2 separate regions of the Homo sapiens genome follow, and region 2 is linked to region 1. Evidence: fine-mapped expression QTL. Tissue or cell type: whole blood. Region 1 holds a variant in brackets; the other region holds the start of a gene. All regions are shown on one strand. Distances are from middle to middle.

Evidence for each region. PIP is the estimated chance that this variant, and not a neighbour inherited with it, causes the effect.
Region 2: GUF1 starts here. The variant in region 1 is fine-mapped to the expression of GUF1 in whole blood (INTERVAL, PIP above 0.99).

The regions. Positions count from the first base shown.
Region 1 is chr4:44,872,796-44,881,064 of GRCh38, reverse strand. No RefSeq gene overlaps it. Among named protein-coding and RNA genes, the nearest start is that of GNPDA2, 150 kb to the right of the region's middle. The variant G/T (reference allele first, on the strand shown) is at 3,163.
Region 2 is chr4:44,673,873-44,681,872 of GRCh38, reverse strand. GUF1 (GTP binding elongation factor GUF1) reads right to left here and starts at 3,453. Exons shown (of 17, transcript NM_021927.3): 1 at 3,086-3,453; 2 at 1,321-1,432; 3 at 1,031-1,179; 4 at 670-750. The coding sequence starts at 3,250. RefSeq lists a silencer at 3,115-3,274 and an enhancer at 3,346-4,234.

The DNA of each region.
Region 1 (8,269 bases):
AATGTTGGCCTGCCTTGCTAGATTGGGGAAGTTCTCCTGGATAATATCCTGCAGAGTGTTTTCCAACTTGGTTCCATTCTCCCCGTCACTTTCAGGTACACCAATCAGATGTAGATTTGGTCTTTTCACATAGTCCCATATTTCTTGGAGGCTTTGTTCGTTTCTTTTTATTCTTTTTTCTCTACACTTCTCTTCTCATTTCATTTCATCATTTCATCTTCCATCACTGATACCCTTTCTTCCAGTTGATCGCATCAGCTACTGAGGCTTCTGCATTCATCACGTAGCTCTCACACGTTGGTTTTCAGCTCCATCATGCCCTCTAAGGACTTCTCTGCATTAGTTATTCTAGTTATCCATTCTTCTAATTTTTTTCAAAGCTTTTAACTTCTTTGCCATTGGTTCGAATTTCCTCCTGTAGCTTGGAGTAGTTTGATTGTCTGAAGCCTTCTCTCAACTCGTCAAAGTCATTCTCCATGCAGCTTTGTTCCATTGCTGGTGAGGAGCTGAGTTCCTTTGGAGGAGGAGAGGCACTCTGATTTTTAGAGTTTCCAGTTTTTCTGCTGTTTTTTTCCCATCTATGTGGTTTTATATACCTTTGATCTTTGATGATGGTGATGTACAGATGGGTTTTTGGTGTGGATGTCCTTTCTGTTTGTTAGTTTTCCTTCTAACAGACAGGACCCTCAGCTGCAGGTCTGTTGGAGTTTGCTAGAGGTCCACTCCACACCCTGTTTTCCTGGGTATCAGCAGCAGTGGCTGCAGAATAGTGGATATTGATGAACCACAGATGCTGCTGCCTGATTGTTCCTCTGGAAGTTTTGTCTCAGAGGAGTACCTGGCCATGTGAGGTGTCAGTCTGCCCCCTACTGGGGGGTGCCTCCCAGTTAGGCTACTTGGGGTCAGCGACCCACTTGAGGAGGCAGTCTGCCCATTCTCAGATCTCAAGCCACATGCTGGGAGAACCACTACTCTCTTCAAAGCTGTCAGAGAGGGACATTTAAGTCTGCAGAGGTTACTGCTGTCTTTTTGTTTTCTGTGCCCTGCCCGCAGAGGTGGAGCCTACAGAGGCAGGCAGGCCTCCTTGAGCTGTGGTGGGCTCCACCCGGTTCAAGCTTCCCGGCTGCTTTGTTTACCTAAGCAAGCCTGGGCAATGGCGGGCGCCCCTCCCCCAGCCTCGCTGCCACCTTGCAGTTTGATCATGGACTGCTGTGTTAGCAATGAGTGAGACTCGGTGGGCGTAGGACCCTCTGAGTCAGGGGCGGGATATAATCTCCTGGTGTGCCATTTTTTAAGCCAGTTAGAAAAGCGCAGTATTAGGGTGGGAGTGACCCGATTTTCCAGGTGCCATCTGTCACCCCTTTCTTTGACTAGGAAAGGGAACTCCCTGACCCCTTGTGCTTCCCAAGTGAGGCAATACCTTGCCCTGCTTCAGCTCACACATGGTGCACTGCACCCACTGTCCTGCGCCCACTGTCTGGCACTCCCCAGTGAGATGAACCCGGTACCTCAGATGGAAATGCAGAAATCACCCATCTTCTGCACCGCTCACGCTGGGAGCTGTAGACTGGAGCTGTTTCTATTCGGCCATCTTGGCTCCTCCCTGACTGTAGTTCTTTTGAACACTTGTCACATTTATGGCATTCAATAAATCACACACATATATACATAGCTTTGAAGAATCAATGAGAAAAAGATAAACACGCCAATAAAAATAGTATATAAGCAAAATTCATATAAGAAATAGAAATGGTTAGGAAAAAATATTTCAACCTCAGTGGTCATTTATGCCAATGAAAGCAATACTAATAAAAAAAAAACCTTCCTTTGTTTTATGCCAGGTACTACACTAAGCACTTTACACATATTGACTCATCTAATCTTCATGACTTTTTGCAGCATATGATATAATCCACTCTCCTTTTTTGTTTTGTTTTTTACAATTTTTTTACTGTTTAATTTTTGTGGGTACATATTAGGTGTATATATTTATGGAATACATGAGATGTGTTGATATAGGCATGCAATGCATAATAATTACATAATGGAAAATGGGGTATCCATCCTCTCAAGCTCTTTTGCAGAGGAAGGACCTGTGGCACAGAAAAGGCAAGTAATTTGTCCAGTGCGATGTGGTAATGTTACAGTAGTTAGGCCAGCATGAGTGGGGCAGGAAAGGGCTCTCCCCTCACCCACTAGGAATATCAGGTGATGCTTTGACAATTATCACACTGCCTCTCTAAAATGATATTTGGCAACCCACCCAGGGCACCAGGAGAGGCCATTTCCTGATAATTCACAGCTATTAACATTAAAATGTTAATTGAATGCAGATGCCAGGGAGAAAAAAACTTCCTGGGCATGTGCACTAAGAGACTAAATGGCAAAGTATGACCTTCTGGGTGTACTCCACTGAAAGAAGGAAGAAAGCTTCAGATGGGCACGCATACAACTTCCTAAACACACTACACATGCTCAGTTCCCAAGGATAAGGAGGGCACTGCACATGTGGGAAGCCCACCCTAAGGGAAGAACCGTGGAAAAGCAGTGAGCCTGTAAAGCCTTAGGATCAAGGTTAAATGCTCTCTTTGACCTTCAGGCGCCCTCTTGGATCTTTTTTCAAGTAAACTTTCCTTTCTTTCTTGTTCTAAAGTCTTATTAAATAAACTTCCACTCCCGCTCTGAAACTTGCCTTGGTCTCTTTTTCTGCTTTATGCCCCTCAGTAGAATTCTTTCTTCCGAGGAGGCAAGGGCTGAAGTTGCTACAGACCAGCATACATATGCTGCCAGTAACTGAGGGTAACTCTGATCTCTTGCGCCGGTAACAGTAAGTCACAAAGCTGACATGCAAACACAGATAGTTTGGCTTCAGAGCCCGAATAGTTCACCTAAGAGTATGTCATTTTGCCCACATGTTTGATAAATATATGTTCAATTATAATATTCAGAAAAATATAAACGAATATTTTCATATTGGATAAAAATGCTAAATGTCAAGCAAAAGAGTTAAAGAAAAACATTATAAAAATCCTCAAAGTCCAAGCAATTTAGTTTGATATTTTGTCGTAGAATAGAAAAGGATCCATTTTGGTTGAATTACTTTAATCTCACCTAGTATCTCCATCCCTTATAGTATCCATGACAATCTCATTGAGACTATAA[G/T]TATCTACATCTTGGCACACTGAGAAAGTAGCAGAAAAGGGGAAGATTACTCTCAAGCAGAGAATAGAAATGAACACAAAAGAAAAATTTCCAATTCAATGTAAATGTGGTTTTATGTGAAAGGTTAAAATAAATTCACCAACTCAATGGGTAAAGGTGTGGCTTGTTTGGAGATTCAGGTAACTCTTGGGTATACATGCTACACATAATTATCAGTTGTCCTGTTAATCATGACATTCAACATTCCGGGGATACTTTGTAATATTTAAAGTTTGAGTAACAACTTTGGACTTGGGTAAATAGGAATACTCCTAGGACATCTACATTTCTGGGTTATGTTTTGTTTTGAGTTTTAAAGTACAACTGCTGTCTTCACTTCAACCATAAAGCAAATGACAACAAATAAAAAAACGGATCCTTGAATTTTTTCTTACCCTTGGAAAAATTTGCCTATCCTGGATGTGATCATTGTTAGCTAATTTGTCTAACATTTTGTTTGAGAGTTATTATCTAGTAGTTAAATTTCCTGCAGCAGTTACACAATAAAAAGGTTAATTTGTATAATTTGATTAGACAATTTGAAAAATTAATAAAATAGACCTTTCATACCTCCTAATAGAGAAAGGCAACTAAAGAAACTATTTTGCATTATTTTAACCAAATATAAAATGTGGTTACAGGGGACAATATAAAAACATAAATCACTTTTTTTTGTCTTGCCAAAAGTTGTAACTTTGACATGAGGGAAGTTTGTCTTCACTATTTCGTGGCAAATAGACAAAACAAGCCACACCTCCTTGACCTTTGAGCTTTCCAACTAAAAAATAAATTGCCAACAACAAGCTGATAGCCATGTGAGGAGCAATACAGAAAATAGGCCCATAGTTAAGATAGAAAATGTGGATGTAAGTCTTTGAACTGACACTTTTTTTCTCTGAAGGCTTTGCCAAGTCATTTAACCTGGCAAGATCTCTATATAAAATGAGCCCAACTAGTCCCTGTCAAATTTCCAGAACTTTTAACCCAAACAATGAAGTAATTATCTCGAGAGAAGAGAACAACCTGTACTCCTTTCATCTATTATTGAAAATACAAGAAAATGTGGTCAAGGGATCTTCTTGACTTTTTGAGAAAATGCTTTTCTTCAGTGTTTTCGGTTTGGTGATCACTGTGAGTTACTCTATAAGGTTTTAATCCTCTCAACTGCCTTATGAGACCTTGAGCAAGCTACTTAACCTCTCTGTGCTTTAATTTGCTTCTGAAAAATAGATGTAATAATTGAACATCCTCATAAGGTTGTTGTGAGGAGTCAATGTGTTAATTAATAAAAAACTTTTAAAACAACTCTGCACATATGCTAAGTGATCAATCGAAGTTAACTCTTAGGCGTATTAATACCATTTTACAAATGATAAAACTGAGGCTTAGAGATGTTAATTAACATGTCCCAAGACCAGAGTTTGGAAATCGTAGAAGTAGGATTTGAACCCAGGTATTTTGTCTCCATAGCCCAAATCCAAGCACTGTCCTGTACTGTTTTCCTTTGAACATCCTGAATTAGGTAATGAGAAAAAAATGTTCTGTTTACATATTTATTGATAGAACACAGAGAGTACATACATAAGAAGCTACAAATTATTATAACAGATAATATTTAAAAGAAAATAAGAGACCCTTAAATTTGTTATATAAAAGAAAGGCTGAGAAATCATATTTTCACAGTAAATATTGTAGTTGCACAATTTTCCTTGTTACTGGTAGAGAAGCATCCACAGAATGTGAAGAGGAAAAGCTACCATAAATCAGAGCTGAATAATCGATCCAAACCATGAAAAAAATGCCAGCAAGCACTAAACACATTTGTCTGCAAAGCTTTAATAAATGTAGTTTTATAAATACTATGCAATATAAGGTATAAATTATGCGGCTTTCTTTCAAAAATTAGTTTAAGTGCAAGCTGGAAGAATTCCCTATGCTTAGGCTGATATAAAATTCAGTAAATACAGAAACTTTGAAGGACAAGAAAATAATAATAAAGACTTCTAAAAGGTTATATGAATATTGTAATTATCTGTGCATAAATGAGAACATTTTATCTTTCTATGCCGAAACAGAAAATGAATACCAAAAAAAGTATGCCTGTGGGAAAATTACTTCCAAAACCATTTTGAGAAATTGAACCATTTTCTATATACAAGTACTTAAACATTCAAGCTAAAACTTGGAATAAAATAACATTGATTTTATTATAAATACTTTAATATTTTTTAAAAGTTTATATTTCATATATAAAATTATATCTTAATAAGTGGAGTGTAGGTTCATAAAGCTGACTTCAATAGAGACTTTAGCTAATGATTGAAAACAAGATTTATATTGGAAGAATTAAGGGTTAAAATGGAATATGGACATTTAGAATAAAGGCTTAATGGATTGAAGTTGGTCAGGCTGGGATATAAATTCCTGCTCTATTTCTAAGAACAATATTAATGCCTAAATTAAGAAGGATACATGCGTAACTGAGGTCAGAGAATTTAAAGAGCAGGCAAAGTTGTTGCTCTGAAACATGACACGAGTCAACCAATATTACCCACATCTACAAAAACTGGGCAGATAAAAGAGCCATCTCTCTAATGGAAATTACTAAAGAAGCCTTACATTGCAGATGCAGTCTGGAACCTGGAACTCTGCAGAAACACACTTCAAACCCATTCCTTACAACTGGGCTTCTTCCTGCAACACCTACAGCTTATTTTTAAGTACACAGCTACATGACACCACGGGATAAATAAACTATTAAGACAATTGTATGCATAACATTTAACAAAATAATTCTTATCATAGAAAATGAGTTGCATTATACAAAGGGATGAATCTATTTGGAAAAATAAGTAAAGTCCAGGGATATATTAGATATAATAAATATCTAAAGTCCCGGGAGAATCTGGAATCACAGATGTCTCAGAGGGGTGCAACAAATTGGGCTCTATTTTCTTCAAATGAATATCAGGAGATATTCTGAGAAATGCATGCAGCCTGCTAATGAAATAAATATGTTCATTTTCCTCTCTGCCTTCCTAACTTTGGAAGTGGTCTAAAATCTCCTGCACACAGTAGGCATTCAATAAATGTTTGTTAAATGAATAATTCAATTAAGAAATCCATATTAGCTTACTAAAAATACAAAATTGAAAAAAAACACAAGGGTTTCAGTTGGAAGAAATTTAGAGATTTTAAGCCAATTCACACACATAACATATTAGACTCAGAAAGGTAAGGAGACTTGTTCCAGGTCATTCAGCTAATTTGTGACCAGGCACTTCCACCAGAAATCAAACCTCAACTCCCAATTTAACCAGAGACACATGTAAGCAGAATTAAAATTGTAAAAAAATCCTGGTTGAATTATAACATATTAAGGATTTGTTAGTAGGTTCACATCAAGTGAAGGTTATTGATTATGAAATTAATATCCTGTGTTTCTACAATGCTCTAAAGGCAGTGAAAAGAACTTCGAAGAAGTATAGCGATTTGGTTTTAGTCCTGATTCTGCCTGAGTATGCCTAAGTGATCCTCAGTTTCCAAAGAGGTAAAATAAGGGATCTATATAAATAATACAGTCTAATTCCCCTCCAAAATTTTATTAAGTACCCATTATATCTCATGTGCCAAGCCAGATACTGAGGATACAAAGAGACATAAAGTGCAGGTCATGCTGTGAAAGGCTAACATCTGGTAGAGGATAGCACATAAAGCTTTAATTCAGACTTTGTGCTGGACTCCTGGCTCTGCCATTTACTAACCGAATGACCTTAGGCACTTATTTTTCTTGGTCTCAGTTTCCTCCTTTGTAAAATGGAAACAATGATGATAATATACCTAATTTATAGAGGTATAAGGACTATGTTATTATGTATATAGTACTCAGAATAATGCCTGTTACTGTTCCATAAATAGTAGCAGTTTTTAACCACATGGAATCTATAATATAACATGGGAAATAAGAATATATATGTAACTATAATTAACACAAGCTAACATAATGCTAAGTCACCAAAGCAAAGCATAAAATGTGGTCATAAGAATTTTAGGAATCACTTTATTCCAACAAAATAAAAGACAGGAATTAATGGAAGCATTTTTTTTTCCTTTGAAGAATATAATGATTAGAAAAGAAGAAGGTGACAAAAAAGGCTGAAAAATTATCAGGATGAGTTATGAAAAATGACTCCTGTATTTAGAAATGTGATGGTCTCAAAGTCATTTTCAAGTTTTTGAAAAATCCATTCCTATGGAAAAGAAAGGCAAACTATGTAATGTTTGCATATTGAAAGAAGGGGAGAAAATATGAACAGTAAATATAGAATACACTTTTAATTAATGTATTCATTCACCCACTCACTCACTAGTTAATTCAACAAATAAGTGAGCCTACTGTGCACAATATCCTCAGCACTGTGGCAAATATCTATCTGAGGTGTCCGCCCCTCAAAGGTAGATGATCCCTGTCTTCCTGGATCTTAGCATATAGAAAGGAGTCCTCAGTAGAGGGAATACCAAATGTCAAGGCCTTGAGAAGTCTAGTATTAATGTAAATAAAAAGAAAAGACCAAGTTCTAAAGCATTCTAAAGCATAGCATGCTTGATGTTCAGTGAACATCAAGAGGTAGAGGAAGTATCCCAGGAAAAAGGAGAAGTGTGCTAATGTTAAATATGAGTTCCCACAGAACATGGTGGAAGGAAACAAAAGGGGAGAGGCCAGGATTTATTGATATGGGGTACAGTAGAAGGTGATAAATGTTGGTAGAGGAAGGTGTGAAGGAAGGAATGAAAAAAGGGGACACAACCAGTAAAGATCTCACTGGGCTTGCAGTGGCAGAACAAGTAGGTTGCTGCTAGTAAACAGAATTCTACTTGGGGAATCCCTGATATTTGTTCCTGTTCTTTGATTCTGTGATTCTCTCAAAAAAAGAAATGCAATTGAACATCTTAAAAATTGAAACAACATGTGTTTCATTGTGTGTAATTAATGAGCAATACTCTGTTCTTAAGGTGTGGCCTTAGTGGTTCATTTGAATTTATGTGCGTCTGGCTTCTGTAATTAAAC
Region 2 (8,000 bases), 200 kb after region 1:
CACAGTCATCAAGGTAGTTTATAAAGGCCAGTACTGCCTACATAAGGTAGAGATTGACTTTCCTTGATGGGATCAGGAAAGGCTTAACGGCTTAACACAACACGGTCACCACCACCACTAAAAAAAAGTTGGGTTTTGAATGAAGAGTTTGTGAGAAACATGTAACAAAAGTTTATATTCACAGCTCTTACATGGTCATCTGCTGAGTGTCTTTACGGCTTACACAACAAAAGAGCTTAGTAATGTTACTGATTTTTTAAAAACCTAATACTTCCAAATTATTGCCTTAAAATCACCTAAAATGATCTGAAAACTAATGATTTATTCTTAAGATCTGCTAAAAATGGATATAGAAACCTCAGATTAAGAACTGCTAAAGTTGGTGGGGTTTTTTTGGTAAGATGCATTGACAATATGATGTCACACTTCAAAAAAATACAACAATCTTTTGAACAATTCCAATTTAAAAACTAGTCAATTCCAGAGAATGCTTTATTGTAATAATATTTCAGATTAACAGGATGAAACCATATGATTTTCAGTAAGTAACAGATTAAATCTATTTTTCAAACACAAAAATTCTATTTCCAAAACACATTTTAAAGAAAAACTCTTGAAACAACCAAATAGTCATGTCATATCACATCATACAAAATGAAAAATACCTACCTCATTTGCATCAACCACAAGTAAAACACCCTGGCAAGCAGAAAGTGACCTGGATACTTCATAACTAAAATCAACATGGCCCTGAGAAACAAAAATATTGATACCTGTAAATGTGAGTTAATTTTTTAGGAAAGAGCATTATGGCAAATTTATTGACTTTACTTGATAAAAGCTGTTAAATATTCGTTTCTTTTTTGTAGCCTGCACTTTTGAAACAACTGACACTAACATAAGAACACTGAGAAAACAAAAAGCAAAGGCAGATGTTTAATACTCAGTTCAAAAATTAAACAAGGATCTGTTTGCACTACTGACACAATGTTGACTTTAACAATACATGCAAAATTAATATTAAACTTACCGGTGTATCAATGAGATTTAAAAGGTACTGCTTTCCTTCACAATTGTAAAAGAGAGATGCTGTCTGTGCTTTAACAGTGATTCCTCTTTCTCGTTCCACTTGCAATTTATCAAGAACCTGCTTATTATTCTTTGTTTTATCAATTGTCCCTATAAACAGAAACACTTATTGATATTTCTCTGGGCTTTAAAAAAAAAAGAGAATATTACTTATAAAATTAAAATTTAAGAGTAAAAGTAATTCCCAATAACTCGCAGCCATCAGTTAAGTATGTAACATAAATGAAATACCTGTAAGTTCTAGGAGCCTGTCAGCTAAAGTACTTTTGCCATGATCCACGTGTGCAACAATACTGAAATTTCTAATATTTTCAACAGGAAACCTAGACATGTCAAGTTTTTCCTAGAAAGGGGAAATACCACATTTAGGAGTATAAATTTGGCATACTATCAAACAAGTATACCAATTCAAAGAATATTCTTTTAATCGTTGAACAATATCATTTCTAGCATTTATATTGTTTATATTATTATTCTAAGAAAAAGACATGTATGGCTAAGTTCATATTACAAGGAACATCAGTTTAATAGCCAAAGGTAACTATACAGCTAAATCATAATCCCTTAACATTTCTACACAATTTTTAGGGCCAATCAGGAACTGAATTTATTATCGTGAATGGAGAACATGAGACACCTAGAACTTCTAAAGGCCTGAGAATACCTTGTCTAGTAAAACTTTTGAGGCAATGGAGCTACAGAAAAGCTGAAAGAAGATAAATTTTCTGCTCCTATCACACATTTAATCAGGAATCAGATTTATTTAAAAATCTGTGTCTCTAATGGAGCCTCAAAATTTTATTTTAAATACAATTTTGCTACTTTGCAGCTTCTCTGGTGAGAAAGAAAAAAAGATGACATCCAACAAAAGACTTATCACTTAAAACTTAAAAATATTTTAAAATGGAACTCCTGGTTTTTCGTGTACACATCTTCTTTAACGTTTTACTGAAACACATCACAAATTGCTAGAAATTGTTATCAAGCAAAATATACCAGTTTTTTGTACTCTATTTTTTTCCAATCAACTGCATATTTCACAATCAGCAAAACCATGAAATTACAATGAAATATAAAATTCACGTGAGCTTTGTTTTTTAATAGCCCCATAAAGACAGATAATAAAAGCACAATTATAGCTGAAAGTCTGCCGAAAAAAAACTAATTCTGATGTTTGCCCTGTAGATTTTCTTTCCCTTCAGTTCAAAAGGTATAGAGAATTGCACCATCTTTATACTTCGAATTGCAATATAAATCCATTTTTAAAAACACAGGCATATTAGGGCCAAAGTTGATTAATTTAAGGTTTTGTCTTTCTGCCTACTTATAGCTTGCCTTCAGTCACTTCACTTTTCTGACTAAAATGTATCCATTCACAATTATCAGAGTTGTTGAACCTCCCACCCTCTCCCACCAGAGTCAAAATTACACAGGTTTGCTCTGGCTGAGGTAGAATGAAATAAAACTACAAAGACAGACCGAGAACTTCCTGCATTCTAGGTATTAGTCTAAAAAAGTCCACTTCTCACATCACACAAATCTCACAAATTAGCCACTGGATGTTTGATCAGTTCTGCATTCAACAAATGAAGTAGGAGAGTGACAATGTAGTAACTTGCCCAGGCCACATAGCTACTTAATTTGCAGGAAAATGGACGTTATATTAATATTTACTAGCAACTTGCTTAGTAGGCTTTTTAGAATTAAATAGATGAATAAACGCAAAGCACTTCGACCAGTGGCTCGCGTAAACAAATCAACATTTGACATTGAAAATGAGAAAACCTACAAAGTTAGTGACTTGCCCAAGGTCACACTAGTGAGGAGTGGAGGGTCGGGAACCTGAGCAGTGCTCACACTCTCCGCTCTGCCTCCCTGTACCAAGTTGCAAGCAGGGTTCAGAGCTAGTCCCAGAAAGCCCTATACATGTCCAAGATCGCATGGGGCACTCCAACGTTTGAAAACTTGGCTAAATCAGATTCCAGGGGGCAGTCACCTTGAATTCTGCGGAGCTGTAGAGCCTGTCGGTAGCCCAGGACTCTGGAGCAGCCCCAAGGGTCGGCGCGGACCGGGGCCCCGGGGCCACCAGAAGCGCGGCCCCAGTGGCTCGTGGCGCGAGAGCGCGTGCGCACCCCCAGCCCCGACCCACGAGGGTCCACATGACCCGGGCGGCGGAGGCGTCAGGAGAGGGTACCCACACGCAACAGCAGCATAGCCCGTTTTTTTTCGAAGGTACCCCCCGTAGGATCCGGTGGACAGGACTCAAACAGATCCTGTGAAGCGAAGACAATGAACCCCGGGGAGCTCTGCCCAAGTACCAGATCCGGAAGCAACCCGAAGCGGCGGCGCAGCTTGCCGACGTCTGCACGCCGCACGCTGTCGTGACATCAGCGCGTCTTGGCGCCGGGTAGTGGAGTGGTCACGTGAGTGGAGGCTTTCGATTGACTCCCTAAAACGCAGGGTGTAGACAGAGTACATATTAGCTTATATTGTCTGCTGAGTGCTGTGCCAATTCCTTTGCATTGTCTCTTTCTTACTACTGCCCTGTGGTGTGTGTACTGTCAGTTCCCCCAAACTACCTCTGGAAATCCGGACCGAGTGACTTGCCCAGGAGCTCACAGGTGGGGAGCTGTGGAGCCTGGAGTGCCGCCCAGGCAGTCTGATTCCCGAACCAGGAGCCGAGGTCTTAGTCCAGGGACTTAAAGATGCTATTATTAGCACAACGTTGAGACTTAGCCTTCTACCTAATGGCAAAATAATAATGGCACTTTTAAAATCTGGAGGTCGAAATGTATTCCCCATGTTGTCAGTGACAGAGCTAATCTTGAAGTGCATCTGAAAGGAAACGGGCCATAACATTGATTGCAATACTGAATCCAGGAAGGTTTTGGCAAGAAGTAAAGGTGGGAAAAAGTTCCATGCTGGACCCCCAATGTTTCCATCGTCATCAAGTTACCACTTCATGGAATGAGCTCTGACGAAGTAAGAATGGGGGATAAAACAGGTGATAGGAGGATTGCATCCAGTGTTTGTCTCCCACTATTTCTCTTGCGCTTTTCTGGAATATCCAGAATTTGGTGCGAAGGAGGGAGATGACAGCTGTGTTCAGTTCATCATTGTGACTGAAGACAGAATCATTCGTATTGTTTCCAGAGCCTTTGAAAGTTTCTTCATTTGGAGGATTTCTTAGGATCAAGAATTCTGTACCAGACTCAGTTCTTTCTTGGATTTTTTTTTCCCCCCTGAGATGGTGTCTCGCTCTGTCGCCCAGGCTGGAGTACAGTAGCGCTATCTCGGCTCACTGCAACCTCCGCCTCCTGGGCTCAAGCGATTCTCCTGCCTCAGTCTCCTGAGTAGCTGGGATTACAGGCGCGCGCCAGCAATCATGGCTAATTTTTGTATTTTTAGTAGAGACGGGGTTTCACCATGTTGGTCACGCTGATCTCGAACTCCTGACCTCGTGATCTGCCCACCTCGGCCTCCCAAAGTGTTGCGATTACAGGCGTGAGCCACCGCGCCTGGCCCTTTCTTGGAACTTTTATGAATTAAAACAGTACTTGATAGACGACTAATTCTGTCACACTTGTAAGAGAATGAATTTAACAACTATCTTGAAGTAAACACAATAATTTATATTCAATGTTGCCCAGACTTCCATAATTTGCACAATTACCCTCATTAATTTTCACCATATCCTGTCAAAGATAAAGGCAGACACCAGTTAAAGTGGTGAAGACAGATTTTTATTATAGTGATATACTAATGCAATCGGGAATAAGATCCAGAATGAACTAAACTACAATTTGTCCAGAGGCGACTGTATTTTAAAAGGAGAATGCGGGAGTAGGGAAAGAGAACAACTGGGCTTGATCAAAGTCAGGGAAACGGAAATTTACAAAAAACAATGGCGGAAGAATGGTCCATTTGAAATCCATCTGGGTTGTAAACTGTTGCTTATGGAAATAAGGCTCCTACCCTTCCCGCAGACACTAGGAAATGAGTGCTACTTTCACATGTTGGCTGGAACAAATAAATTATTTTGTCAGTCTTGAGCTTTCTCAGACAGAAATTTAAGGGGGCTTCATCTTAGAGATGCAGCCTTGAGCTGTTATAAACTATATGAGTTTGTTCAAGTCTTTTAATGTGTGGGCAAACCGGTAGGGGAAGGATGTGGATGAAATCATTTGTGCTGAGGGTCTGTAGTTTTTATAGGCAAGTTTGAGGCTTTGCTGATAAGAGGGCTTAGAAGAGTCAGGCTAGAGTTTGGTCAAGAATCTTTGTCAATCCTCATACCGATATTATGTACTTTATATTTTTCTTTAACTTACCTTTATATGTAAATGAATTCTTTTTAAAAGAAAACGTAGATACCATTAATGGAGAAAGCATGATGAGCTGTCATAAGAGTAACAGTAAATATAACTGTAGTGAATAAAAAATGTGATTCAATTGTAGGTTTGGTCTGTCTGGATTACAAAAGGGAGATTAGCAGATATTAGAAAAGAATTTAAAAATATTAGCCTCAAACTGAGATTTTTCTCTTTGACCTAGCAAGAAGCATTTAAATAGGGTTGAAAGAAAAACTTTATCTGAATAACACAGTATCCTTGATACCATGTCTGTATCTATCTTGGTGCCTCCACAGGAATTTGTCCCACACTTTAGAAAACTGCAGTATCTTATAAGGCTGACATTATGTTTCCCAGCCTACAAATGGAAAAACATATTTGTTAGAAAAATACTGAGCTCCACTGTGTCAGGTTATATACTAGCTGTGGAAACTCAAACAAATTAAGCAAAATGTCTAAAATTACATGATAGATAAATTACATGATAGATAAATGCAAAAAAAAATTTGAATCCAAATTTTTGGAAACTAAAGCTCATCTCTTGCAATATCTTTGCACAAGTTTCTTTATTATTCAACTTGAGAAGAAGCAGGAGGTATAGTGACTGAACTTCAAAGAGGAGGTATCTTTCATGTGCTTCGAAGGATAGGCAGTTTTTTGTTTTTATCCAAGGAAATAAATGGAACTTAAGCAGAGGAATAATCAACAGCATAACACATTTTCTCAGTTCCCAGTACTATTCTACATACTTTGTATCAATTCATTCGATCTTCACAGAGCCCTCTATTGCTGGCACTCTTATTATCTCTGTTTCATAGATTTCCAAGAAAAATGTGGCCAACGTTTTTTAAATAACTGTCTAGAGTCACAGTTAGTGATGAACTAGGGCTGTGAGTCCACACAGTCCAGCTGTAGAGCCTGCACCCTTAACCACTCCAGTAAACTCGGCTCAGCTGAGCAAGGATACAAATGCGGAAAAACACACAATAAATTGGGTTAATAGTCAGTAGAGAACAGGGCCAACATTCAGGACAGTAGCATTTTATTTGAGGCGAGGACTTCTGAAGAGCTTAAATAATTTACAAACTCATAAATCAAGACTCAGTTTTTCTGTAAAAATAAATATATAATATGGAGATTGCACTCATATAGTACATTAATCCACAACTATTGTATGGTTTCTATATTTGTAAATATACCGAAAGGAATATGAGTTTGCTAGGGCTTTCATAACAAAATACCACAGACTGACTTGGTGGCTTAAACAATAGATATTTATTTTCTCACAATTCTGGAGGCTAAGAGTTTGAGATCAATGTATCAGCACAGCTGGTTTCTTCTGAGACCTCTCTGTTTGGCTTGCAGATCAGTACCTTCTGCGTTCTTACAGGGTCTTCTCTCTATACATGTCTGTGTCCTAATTTTCTTATCAAGACTCTAGTCATATTTGATTTGGGCCAATCCTAATAATTTTAAATTAATTATTTCATTAAAGACCCTATCTCTAAATACAGTCTCATTCTGAGATATTGGGGGTTTGAACATCAACATATAAACATGGAAGTGTTGACACAATTCAGCCCATAACAAAAGAGTAATAAAAACAATGTATAAATAACTATCACCTCTAAATTCTGTTTCAAAGTTATTGATATTGTGGAGCATTTCTAGCACTAAAAATACCATTAATAAATGATTAAAGTAGTATCACATTAGCCATTTAAAGCGCTTGCACAATTTTAGAGCATAATCACACAATATTAACAAAGGTTCTCTAGTATTGCTGCTAGGCTGCTAAAATGGTGCCACCATGTGTCTACAGTATAAAATACATCTTTCAATTCACTTTTGAGGCCCATTTTTAAATTATTCTAAGTTTTTTAGACTTTTATATTTTTTCAAATTTTGAGCATAAAAATTTGATCTTTAGAAATATTTTCATATCACAAAATAGAAAGTGTATAGGGTAGAGGAGGAATCATAGAAAGAAGAGTTTGTATCACTTTGTGAAGGGCTTTGAACAGGGACGTACTAGTTAGCATTTCACCATTAATCTATGCAGAAACCATCGTAAGGAAGGAAATAACAGAATTTTTTGCTCTAGGGGGCTTTCTCTAACGATGTGTAAAATGAAAAGAAATCAAATGAGGTGATGAGAATGAAAGGGAAAGAGAGTTTTTTATTTTAATAATCTAGGTAAGACAGGCCGGGCGCGGTGGCTCACGCCTGTAATCCCAGCACTTTGGAAGGCCGAGGCGGGTGGATCACGAGGTCAGGAGATCGAGACCATCGTGGCTAACACGGTGAAACCTCGTCTCTACTAAAAACACTAAAAATTAGCCAGGCATCGTGGCGGGCGCTGTAGTCCCAGCTACTCGGGAGGCTGAGGCAGGAGAATGACGTGAACTCAGGAGGCGGAGCTTGCAGTGAGCTGAGATTGCGCCACTGCACTCCAGCCTGGGCAACACAGCTAGACTCCGTCTCAAAAAGTAATAATAATAATAATAATCTAGGTAAGACACAGTAGAGTCCTGGGTAAATCAGTGGCAGAGAATGAAGAGA